2 separate regions of the Homo sapiens genome follow, and region 2 is linked to region 1. The links come from fine-mapping of genetic effects on gene expression. Tissue or cell type: lung. Region 1 holds a variant in brackets; the other region holds the start of a gene. All regions are shown on one strand. Distances are from middle to middle.

Evidence for each region. PIP is the estimated chance that this variant, and not a neighbour inherited with it, causes the effect.
Region 2: FXYD4 starts here. The variant in region 1 is fine-mapped to the expression of FXYD4 in lung (TOPMed, PIP above 0.99).

The regions. Positions count from the first base shown.
Region 1 is chr10:43,330,759-43,335,905 of GRCh38, forward strand. The region is part of intron 2 of LOC105378271 (a long non-coding RNA gene); the gene reads left to right. LOC124902414 (a long non-coding RNA gene) reads right to left here. Exons shown (of 2, transcript XR_007062130.1): 2 at 3,756-4,872. Among named protein-coding and RNA genes, the nearest start is that of LINC02633, 10 kb to the left of the region's middle. The variant C/T (reference allele first, on the strand shown) is at 2,025.
Region 2 is chr10:43,369,194-43,374,340 of GRCh38, forward strand. It overlaps FXYD4 (FXYD domain containing ion transport regulator 4), which reads left to right and starts at 2,443. Exons shown (of 9, transcript NM_173160.3): 1 at 2,443-2,504; 2 at 3,534-3,579; 3 at 4,322-4,590. The coding sequence starts at 4,554.

The sequences.
Region 1 (5,147 bases):
GAGACCCAATCTCTACAAAAAATAATTAGCTGGGCATGATGGCTCACACCTGTAGTCCCAGCTATTTGGGAGACTGAGGTGGGAGGATCGCTTGAGCCCAGGAGATCGAGGCTGCATTGAGCCGAGATTATGCCACTGCACTCCAGCCTGGGTGACACAGCAAAACCCTGCCTCAAAAAAAAAAAAAAAGAAAGAAAAAAAAATAGTGATAACACCAAATGATAGTGAGGATGCAGAAAAACTAGACCACACATTACTGTTAGGAATGTGGCCAGGCACGGTGGCTCATGCCTGTAATCCCAGCATTTTGGGAGACAGAGGCAGGTGGATTACTTGAGGTCAGGAGTTTGAGACCAGCCTGGCCAACATGATGAAACCCTATCTCTACTAAAAATATTTAAAAATTAGCCAGGAGTGGTGGCGGGCACCTGTAATCCCAGCTACTCAGGAGTCTGAGGCAGGAGAATGGCTTGAACCTGGGAGGTGGTGGTTGCAGTGAGCCAAGATCAGGCCACTGCACTCCATCCTGGGCAACAGAGCAAGACTCCATCTCACAAAAAAAATAATGTAAAATGGTACAGGCACCCTGGAAAATAGCTTGGTAGTTTCTTTCTTTTTTTCTTTCTTTTTTTTTTTTTTTAAGATGGAGTTTTGCTCTTGTTGCCCAGGCTGGAGTGCAATGGTGAGATCTCGGCTCACTGCAACCTCCGCCTCCTGGGTTCAAGCAATTCTCCTGCCTCAGCCTCCTGAGTAGCTGGGATTACAGGTGCGCACCATCATGCCTGGCTAATTTTTTGTATTTTTAGTAGAAACGGGGTTTTACCATGTTAGCCAGGCTGGTCTTGAACTCCTGAACTCAGGTGATCCTCCCGCTTCAGCCTCCCAAAGTGCTGGGATTACAGGTGTGAGCCACCATGCCCAGCCGGTAGTCTCTTATAAAACTAAATATATACTGGCCATAAAACCCAGAAACCACACTCACATTTATCACAGAGAAATGAAAACTGTTCACACCAACACCTGGCCACAAATGTCCACAGCAGCATTATTCACAATTGCCAAAAACTGGAAAAAACACAAATGCTCTTCAATGGGTGAATGGTTAAAGAAACTTTGATACCCCCATACCATGTAATACTACTCAGCAATAAAAAGGAACCGACAATTGATATATTCAACAACTTGGATGGATCTCAAGCAAATTACGCTCAGTGAAAAAGAGCCAGTTCAAAAGGCCATATACTGTGTGATTCCATTTATATAACATTTTTGAAATGACAAAATAGACAGATGAAAATCAGATTAGCAGTTGCCAGGGTTTAGGGGCAGAGGAGGAGGGGGCGGACATAGGTAAAGGGTTAGCATGAAGGACTTCTGTGGTGATAATTATTCTGTATCTTGATTGTGGTGCTGGTTACACGAACCTACACATGTGATAAAATTGCATTGAACTATTCACACGCATACATACAACACACACAAGTGAGTGCATGTGACACTGATGAAGTACAAACAAGCTCTGAGGACTGTATCAACATCAGCGTCCTGGCTTTGATATTAAACCATAGTTAGAGAAGATGTTATCATTGGGGGAAACTGGGTGAAACGTACACGAAACTTCCTCGAACTTTTTTTTTTTTTTGCAACTTCCTGTGGGTTTATAATCATTTCGAAATTTATCCTCTTTTTTTTTTTGAGACAGAGTCTCACTCTGTCACCCAGGTTGGAGTGCAATAGCCTGATCTCGGCTTACTGCAACCTCTCCCTCCCAGGTTCAAGCAATTCTTCTGTCTCAGCATCCCATGTAGCTGGGATTACAGGCACGCACCACCACACCCGGCTAATTTTTGTATTTTTAGTAGAGATGGGGTTTCAACATGTTGGCCAGGCCGGTCTTGAACTCCTGACCTCAAGTGATCCGCCAGCCTTGGCCTACCAAAGTGCTGGGATTACAGGCATGAGCCACTGCACCTGGCCCAAATTTTAAAATTCTTAACATATATTATTTTTAAAATGCTTCTCCA[C/T]CCACTCCTCTCCACCGCTGTACTTCTGTTGCTATCTCAGGCAGTGGTCCATGAAGGCCAGCACCACAAATAAAGCTACAACTGCTCAGTGTTTATGTAACACCCAGATAAAACCACCCCCACCCTTCTCCATGTCATCTCAATGTAGTGACATAGCCAAAAGTAACGCAGGTCCAAAACCCTGAGCAGTCATGGAGAGCTTTGCTTCAAGTTTTCTTGGGAGGACTGTGGAGAGTAGGCTCCCATCTCATGATGCAAAGCAAAACTTCCTGATGTCGTCCTTCCCACCCCCGACCAAAGCTGCGCTTTAAAGCAGATCCTCCAGTATCTCCTCCCCTCTCCCCATCTGCTTCTCTCCCCCTAAGCTTCCAGCCTTCTCTTCCTCTCCCCTCCCATCCCCTCCAACAGGACTGCTGGATTTCCGGCAAAAACTCCCAGGTCTGTTCTAACATGGATCAGCCTGGGCTCTTCCCATCTCTGCCCACTCCCACAGCAAAGGCCCCATAAGGAGCAGCCAAACACTCGCACCTCCTCATGACACAAAGGAAAGGGAAGGCTGTGAACAGCCACTTGCGCTGTAGCATTTTTGTTTCTGTTTTTTTTTTAAAAAAAAATGGGTAGGCCGGGCACGGTGGCTCACGCCTGTAATCCCAGCACTTTGGGATGCCAAGGCAGGCAGATCACAAGGTCAGGAGTTCGAGACCAGCCTGACCAACATGGTGAAACCCCATCTCTACTAAAAATACAAAAATTAACCGGGTGTGGTGGCACGCAACTGTGATCCCAGCTACTTGGGAAGCTGAGGCAGGAGAATTGCTTGAACCCGGGAGGCAGAGGTTGCAGTGAGCTGAGATTGCGACGATGCACTCCAGCCTGGGTGACAAAGCAAGACTCTGTCTCAAAAATAAATAAATAAATAAATAAAATGGATAAAAGATTTGGAGAATCACCTCAGCAAAGAAGATAAGCTGATGGCAAATAAGCACAGGAAAAGATGCTCAACATCATTAGTCATTAGGGAAACACTCATTGAAACCATGAAGAGACACCGCGACACACCCACTAGGATGGCTACAACCAAAGAGACTCACCATGGCAAGTGGTAGTGAGGGTGTGAAGAAACTGGGACATTCATGCACTGCTGGTGGGAATGTGAAATGGCACAACCATTTCGGAAGACAGTTTGGCAGGTTCTTATGAAGTTAAGCATACAGCCAGGGATGGTGGCTCACACCTAATACTTTGGGCTTTGGGAGGTGGAGGAGGGTGGATGGCTTGAGCCCAGCCCAGGAGTTAGAGACTAGCCTGGGTAACATGGCGAGACCCTGTTTTGCCATGTCACCCAGGCTCTGTCAACCAGGCTGGAGTGCAGTGGCACAATCTCCACTCACTGCAACTTCCACCTCCCAGGTTCAAGCGATTCTCCTGTCTCAGCCTCCCAAGTAACTAGGATTACAGGTACGTGCCACCACAATGTGCTAATTTTTGTATTTTAGTAGAGATGGGGTTTCACCATGTTGGCAGGCTAGTCTTGAACTCTTGACCTCAGGTGATCCACCCACCTCAGCCTCCCAAAGTGCTGGGATTACAGGCGTGAGCCACGCGCCTGGCCTGCAAGACCCTGTTTCCAAAAATAAAAAAGTTAAACCTGCCATATGACTCAGTCACTTCACTCGTAGGGATTTACCCAGGTTTCATGAAAACATAGTCCACACAAGACCTGCACAGTAATATGTATAGACACTTTATTGGTAATAGTTAGAAACTGGAAACAACCCAAGTGTCCATCAACAGAAGAATGCAGCCAGGCACAGTGGCTCATCCCTGTAGTCCCAGCACTTTGGGAGGCTGAGGTGGGCGGATCATGAGGTCAGGAGTTCAAGACCAGTCTGGCCAACATGGTGAAACTCCACCTCTACTAAAAATACAAAAATTAGCGGCACATGGTGGCATGTGCCTGTAATCCCAGCTACTCGGGAGGCTGAGGCAGGAGTATCGATTAAACCCGGGAGGCGGAGGTTGCAGTGAGCTGAGATAGAGCCACTGGGCAACAGAGCAAGACTCCATCTCGGGGGCAAAAAAAAAAAAAAAAGAAGAATGCATAAATTATGGCACATCCATGCTATGGAATACTGTTTAGCAATTTTAAAAGAATGAACTGCACTCCAACCTGGGTGACAGAGCAAGACCCTGTCTAAAAAAGAAAAAAAGAAAAAATAATAATAAACTATTGATATTCACATCACTACAGATAAATCTCAAAATAATTATGCTAATGGAAAGAAGCCAGACAAAAGAGTACACATTGTATGATTCCATCTATATAAAATTCTAGAAATCGCAAATGAATCAAACAGAAAGCAGATCAGTGCTTGCCTGTGGCATTGCCTTGCCTCTCCAAGGGGTCCTTGGGGGAGGGAGAAAAGGATCACAGAAGGGCATAAGGAAAGTTTTCAGTGATGGATGTAGTCATTTTTTTGATTGTGGTGATTATTTCACCGGGTATATATATATATATATTCTTCCAATTTTGGCCGAGTGCGGTGGCTGTCACCTATAATCCCAGCACTTTGGTAGCCTGAGGCAAGAGGACTCCTTGAGCCCAGGAATTCAAGACCAGGCGTGGTGTAGCCGGGCGTGGTGGTGCACACCTGTAGTCCCAGCTACTCAGGAGGCTGAGGTGGGAGCATTTCTTGCGCCCAGGAGGTGGAGGTTGCAGTACGCTACGATCATGCCACTGCACTCTAGCGTGGGTGACAGAGCTCACTTGAATCTGGGAGGCAGAGTTTGTGGTGAGCCAAGATTGTGCCATTGCACTCCAGCCTGGGCAACAAGTATGAAACTCCGTCTAAAAAAAAAAGAAAAGAAAAAAAAGAAATCAATGTGGCTGCTCTCAAAACACCAGATACGTCTATTGAATCATGCATAGAACCTGGGAAAGGGACCTCTGGGTGGATTCCTGAATGCAGTGGACCTACAGTGAGTTGGGCCTGGGTCAAAACTCTATTGCCTAACTCTCATATAGCCCCAACACTACCAGGGGACCACAATAAGGCTTTGGGTCCCTGGGTATCAATGCCAAGATGGATTCTGTGTCTAGCAGCACTTGAAATGTTTAAATTC
Region 2 (5,147 bases), 38 kb after region 1:
TTGGGCAACAGAATGACTCTGTCTCAACAGAATGAGACTCTGTCTCAAAAAAATAAAAATAAAATAAATGATCCCAAACTTCTACATTTTACGTATTTATTGTGAGACAGGTCTCCCTCTGTCACCCAGGCTGGAGTGCAGTGGTGCTTTCTGGGCTCACAGCAGCCTTGACCTCCCATGCTGAAGCGATCCTCCCACCTCTGCTGGAGTATAGGTGTGTGCCACCACGCCAGGCTGTTTGTTCTATTTTTTTTTGTAGAGATGGGGTCTCGCTATGTTGCCCAGACTGGTCTCAAACTCCTGGGCTCAAGTGATCTGCCCACCTTGGCCTCCCAGAGTGTCAGGATTTAACCCCCACACTCCACCGAGACTTTAAAACTCTGACTTCCATTCTTCTCTTTTTTTCTTTTTTAAGATGGAGTCTCGCTCTGTCGCTGAGGCTGGAGTGCGGTGGCACGATCTCAGCTTACTGCAACCTCCGCCTCCCAGGTTCAAGCGATTCTCCTGCCTCAGTTTCCCAAGTAGCTGGGACTACAGGAGCGCGCCACCACGCCCGGCTAATTTTTGTATTTTTAGTAGAGACGGGGTTTCACCTTGTTGGCCAGGCTGGTCTTGAACTCCTGATCTCATGTTCTGCCCTCCTCAGCCTCCCAAAGTGCTGGGATCACAACCGTGAGCCACCGCCCCCAGCCATGACTTCCATTCTTTACCATCCTTACTTCCTGAGCAGGCCATCCTTAACCTTTACACTTAAATAAACTCCTTTAAACTAAAATCTAACCTGTTTGACTATTGTAGATTGACAGGCTAATGAGAGTATGAACCTCCAAAGACTTCTGTGAGGGCTAGGTGCAGTCATATATGCAATGAACTCAAGTAAACAGCTGGCTGAGGAAACACCGGGACGCCTCCTCTGTGCTAAGCCCCATGCAGCATGCACACAGACACAGGCCCACCTCAGCCTCCCAAAGTGCTGGGGTTACAGGCGTGAGCCGCCTTTCCCAACCAATATTTTATATTTTTACACAAGTGACAGCATCCTATTCAGACTGCCCTATACTTTTTTTCCACTTAAAAGTATGTCTGGGCCAGACATAGTGTCTCACACCTGTAATCCCAGCATTTTGGGAGGCCGAGGCAGTGGATCGCCTGAGGTCAGGAGCTCGAGACCAGCCTGCTCAACATAGCGAAATCCCATCTCTACTAAAAATACAAAAATTAGCTGGGCACAGTGGTGTGTGCCGGTAATCCCAGCTACTCGGGAGGCTGAGACAGAATTGCTTGAACCTGGGAGGTGGAGGTTGTGGTGTGCCAAGATCGAGCCACTGCACTCCAGCTTGGGCGACAGAGCGAAATTCCAGCTCAAAAATAAATATATAAATAAACAAACAAACCAACTAAACCATCATTGCCCTCCCCAGCCCTCCCAGCCCAGAGACCCCCATCCCTTGTCAGCCATCCCCCCTTACCTTCTGGACAGGGACAAGTGTCCCTCATTTGGAAAAGAATTAAGGAGGGGTAACAGCAGACTAGGGAGGCCTGGGGTCCTCCACACGCCTGTGTGGGGTGACTTTGGCCCCCAGCAACAAGGCAGGCCTGAGGTCTGCAGAGGGAGGCAGCCCACTCCTCAGCCGGGGGCGTCTATCCTCCTCCTGGCCCCATCCCTCACCTGTGGGGGAGGCTAAGTGGGTGTCAGGGCCCTGTCAGAGGGTGAGCCACCCCCGGGGGTGCCCATCGGCCACCAGCCTCCCTTCAGTAGACACCCAGCCCAAGTGACAGCAGTGGCATGGCACTGCTGAGCACAGGGAGCCTCAAGGTCAGTGCCTGGCTCCTGGTATCCTCCGTGGTCCCCAGGACACCCCCACACAGAGGTCCCAGAACCCCCAAAGCTGGCACAAGAGCCCAGGAACACCCTGCCCAGCACCCTCCAGGTCCCTCTTTTAGGATCTGGGTGAGCTAAAGAAGCCAAAAGAAAGGCTGGGCGCGGTGGCTCACGCTTGTAATCCTAGCACTTTGGGAGGCCGAGGTGGGCGGATTGCCTGAGCTCAGGAGTTGGAGACCAGCCTGGGCAACACATTGAAACCCCATCTCTACTAAAATACAAAAAAAATTAGCCAGGTGTGGTGGCGTGCACCTGTAGTCCCAGCTACTCGGGAGCCTGAGGCAGGGGAATTGCTTGAACCCAGGAGGCAGAGGTTGCAGTGAGCTGAGATTGCATCACTGCACTCCAGCCCGGGTGACAGAGTGAGACTCCATCTCAAAAAAAGAAAAAAAAAAAAAAAAAAAAAAAAAAAAGAAGCCAAAAGAGGGTCTTCGGCCCAGCCCGCCCCTCCCCAACAGCCCTGGGTGTGGCAGGGAGCCTGACCAGTTCCCTCCAGCCTGCGTCATGGAGCCCTGGGCGTGGCTGCAGGGTTTAAAGAGCCGACCCACGTGCCCAGCAGCCTCCTCAGATCCGTTCTCTGCGCTGCCAGCTCAGGTGAGCCCTCGCCAAGGTGACCTCGCAGGTGAGCAGGCGTCCACTTTGGGGCTGCTGGGTGAAGGGGGTGGGTGCCCAAGAATTCTGAGTAATGAGGAGCCTGTTGAGGGGTCTGAGGACAGATATGGCTGCAGCAGCCGCTTGAAGGCCTCCTGCTTTGCACCCACTATCATATGGATGGTGGGTTGGGGGTTGGAGGAAACAGAAGCCAGCCCTTGGCTAAAGAATATATGAGCTGGTGGGGTATACCTCTGGTCCCAACTGCTTGAGATACTCAGGTGAGGAGATCACCTGAGCCAAGAGAGTTCAAGGCTGCAGTGAGCCGAGATCACGCCACTGCTCTCCATCCTGGGTAACAGAGCAAGACCCTGTCTCAAAAAAAAAAAAAATAGTAATAATAATAATAATAAAATAAAAAATGTGACCTAGAGTTGAGACCCTCGTATTCCAGGAACTCCAGGTTGGTGAAGGTAGAGAGACCAGTGAAGGCTGGGGGAAGCCAGCTTTGGAGACTGCTCCTAGCCCAAGAACCGATGTTCAGAAGCAGTGCCTAACAGTCTCTCCCTCCAGTGCCTCCCTCCCACTGCAGAAGGACCATGTGTTTATTTATGGATGTATTTATTTATTTATTTTGAGATGGAGTCTCCCTCTGTTGCCCAGGCTGGAGTGCAGTGCCAGGATCTCGGCTCACTGCAACCTCCACCTTCCAGGTTTAAGTGATTCTCCTGCCTCAGCTTCCCAAGTAGCTGGGAATACAGGCGCCTGTCACCACACTCAGCTAATTTTTGTATTTTTAGTATAGATGGGGTTTTGCCATGTTGGCCAGGCTGATCTTGAACTCCTGACCTCAGGTGATCCACCCGCCTCAGCCTCCCAAAGTGCTGGGATTATAGGTGTGAGCCACTGCGCCCGGCCTATGGATGTATTTATTGTAACAGGTTTTTAGTGCTTACTGTGTGCTAGGCATAGTTCTTAGGCTTGACAAATAGTAGTTCACGTAATTCCATCGCTATAACCTTATGAGGTTGCTACTATTCTGATGATCCTCCTTTTACAGGACACTGGTGAAGGAGCAGTGAGGAACCTGCAGAGTCACACAGTTGGTAAGTTGCTAAGAAGGGACCCAGCCCAGACAGCTGGCCCTGGATCTGTGATCTCATCAGGAGGCCAGAGCTGGGTACAGCAGATGATGACAATGGCTTCAGTATTGAAAACTTGACCACACTAGGCTAACAATATGCAGAGGGCTGGGAGGGGGCCTGCGCTCAAAGACTCAGCCTCCCTAAGGACAAGTAAATGGGGTCCTGGCTACTTCCAACCTGAGGGGGAAATGTCATACCACAGGAGGTCTATACTCTGAGAGCAGAATCTGGGTCTGCTGGAGTAGGGTCCCCTGCCAGGGCTGGCAGGGGAGGTCCTGGCTGCTGCAGTCATCTCATCCCAGGACTCAGCACTCCCTCCCTCCTCCACACCCTTGCTTTTGTGGAGGCTCTCTGGGAATTCAGACTGAGGGTGCTGGACTCTGGCCACCCCAGGCCCAGACCTTTGGGAACAATAGCCTGGGGCCTGATAACAATGCCCTTTGTGTGGGGTTAGGAAGGCAGGCTCCAGACCCTGACTTAGAATAGCAGCCACCTGACCCTGGGCATCTGATTACACCTCTCTAAGCTCCATTTTTTTTTTTCTTCTCTGAAATAGAGACAATAATAGTATCTTCCTCATGGGGAGGAGTAGGGGGTGGGTTTGTCGCATGGATTTTAACAACGCCTTCTACAGCACTTACTCTGTGCAGGCACAGTTTTGAGCTCTTAGCTTGTGCTTACTCAATCCACACAACTCCCCCAGGCCACCACCATCTCTAGATGGGAAGACAGAAAGTAGTTACTTTCCCAAGATCTCCCCACAAGCAAGTGTATCCTTGGGGTTTGTACACCTACTTTCACCATGGGGCTCTGCCTGCCCCCGCCCCTGCCTCCTCTCGCTGACCAATTGAGCTGTGAGCCTGGAGCAGATCCGTGGGCTGCAGACCCCCGCCCCAGTGCCTCTCCCCCTGCAGCCCTGCCCCTCGAACTGTGACATGGAGAGAGTGACCCTGGCCCTTCTCCTACTGGCAGGTGAGTCCTCCCAGTCTCCTGGGACCCTCTTGCATTCACCCCACCCACAAAGGCAGCAAAAGCCAGACAACATCTCCTTTGGGAGTCTGGTGTTCAATCAGCATGCTTTATTTAAACTGCCAATTTAGAGAGAAACATGAAGGAAATGACAGTACAGGTAGGATGAGAATATTGCAAAAAGGTCCTAATAGCTCCAGAGGAATTGAACCATGGAAAACATTAACCACCTGTGGCTTGAAGACAAAAGCAGGGTGGCACAGCGGCTCAGGCCTGTAATCCCAGTGTTTTGGGAGGCCAAGGTGGGAGGATCACTTGAGCCTGGGAGGATCACTTGAGCCTGGGAGGTCGAGGTTGCAGTGAGCTAGGATTGCACCATTGCACTCCAGCCTGGGTGACAGAGAGAGGTTCCGACTCATAAAAAAGACAAGCATTCCCTGTTTCTTCAGGGGGCAGAGACATAACAAACCATCCCAGTCAGCATGCACACAGGAGCATCAGGAAGCCTGGGACAGCAGGGCTTGGGCGGGGCCACACCCTGAGGCTGTGTGGGGCTGGGG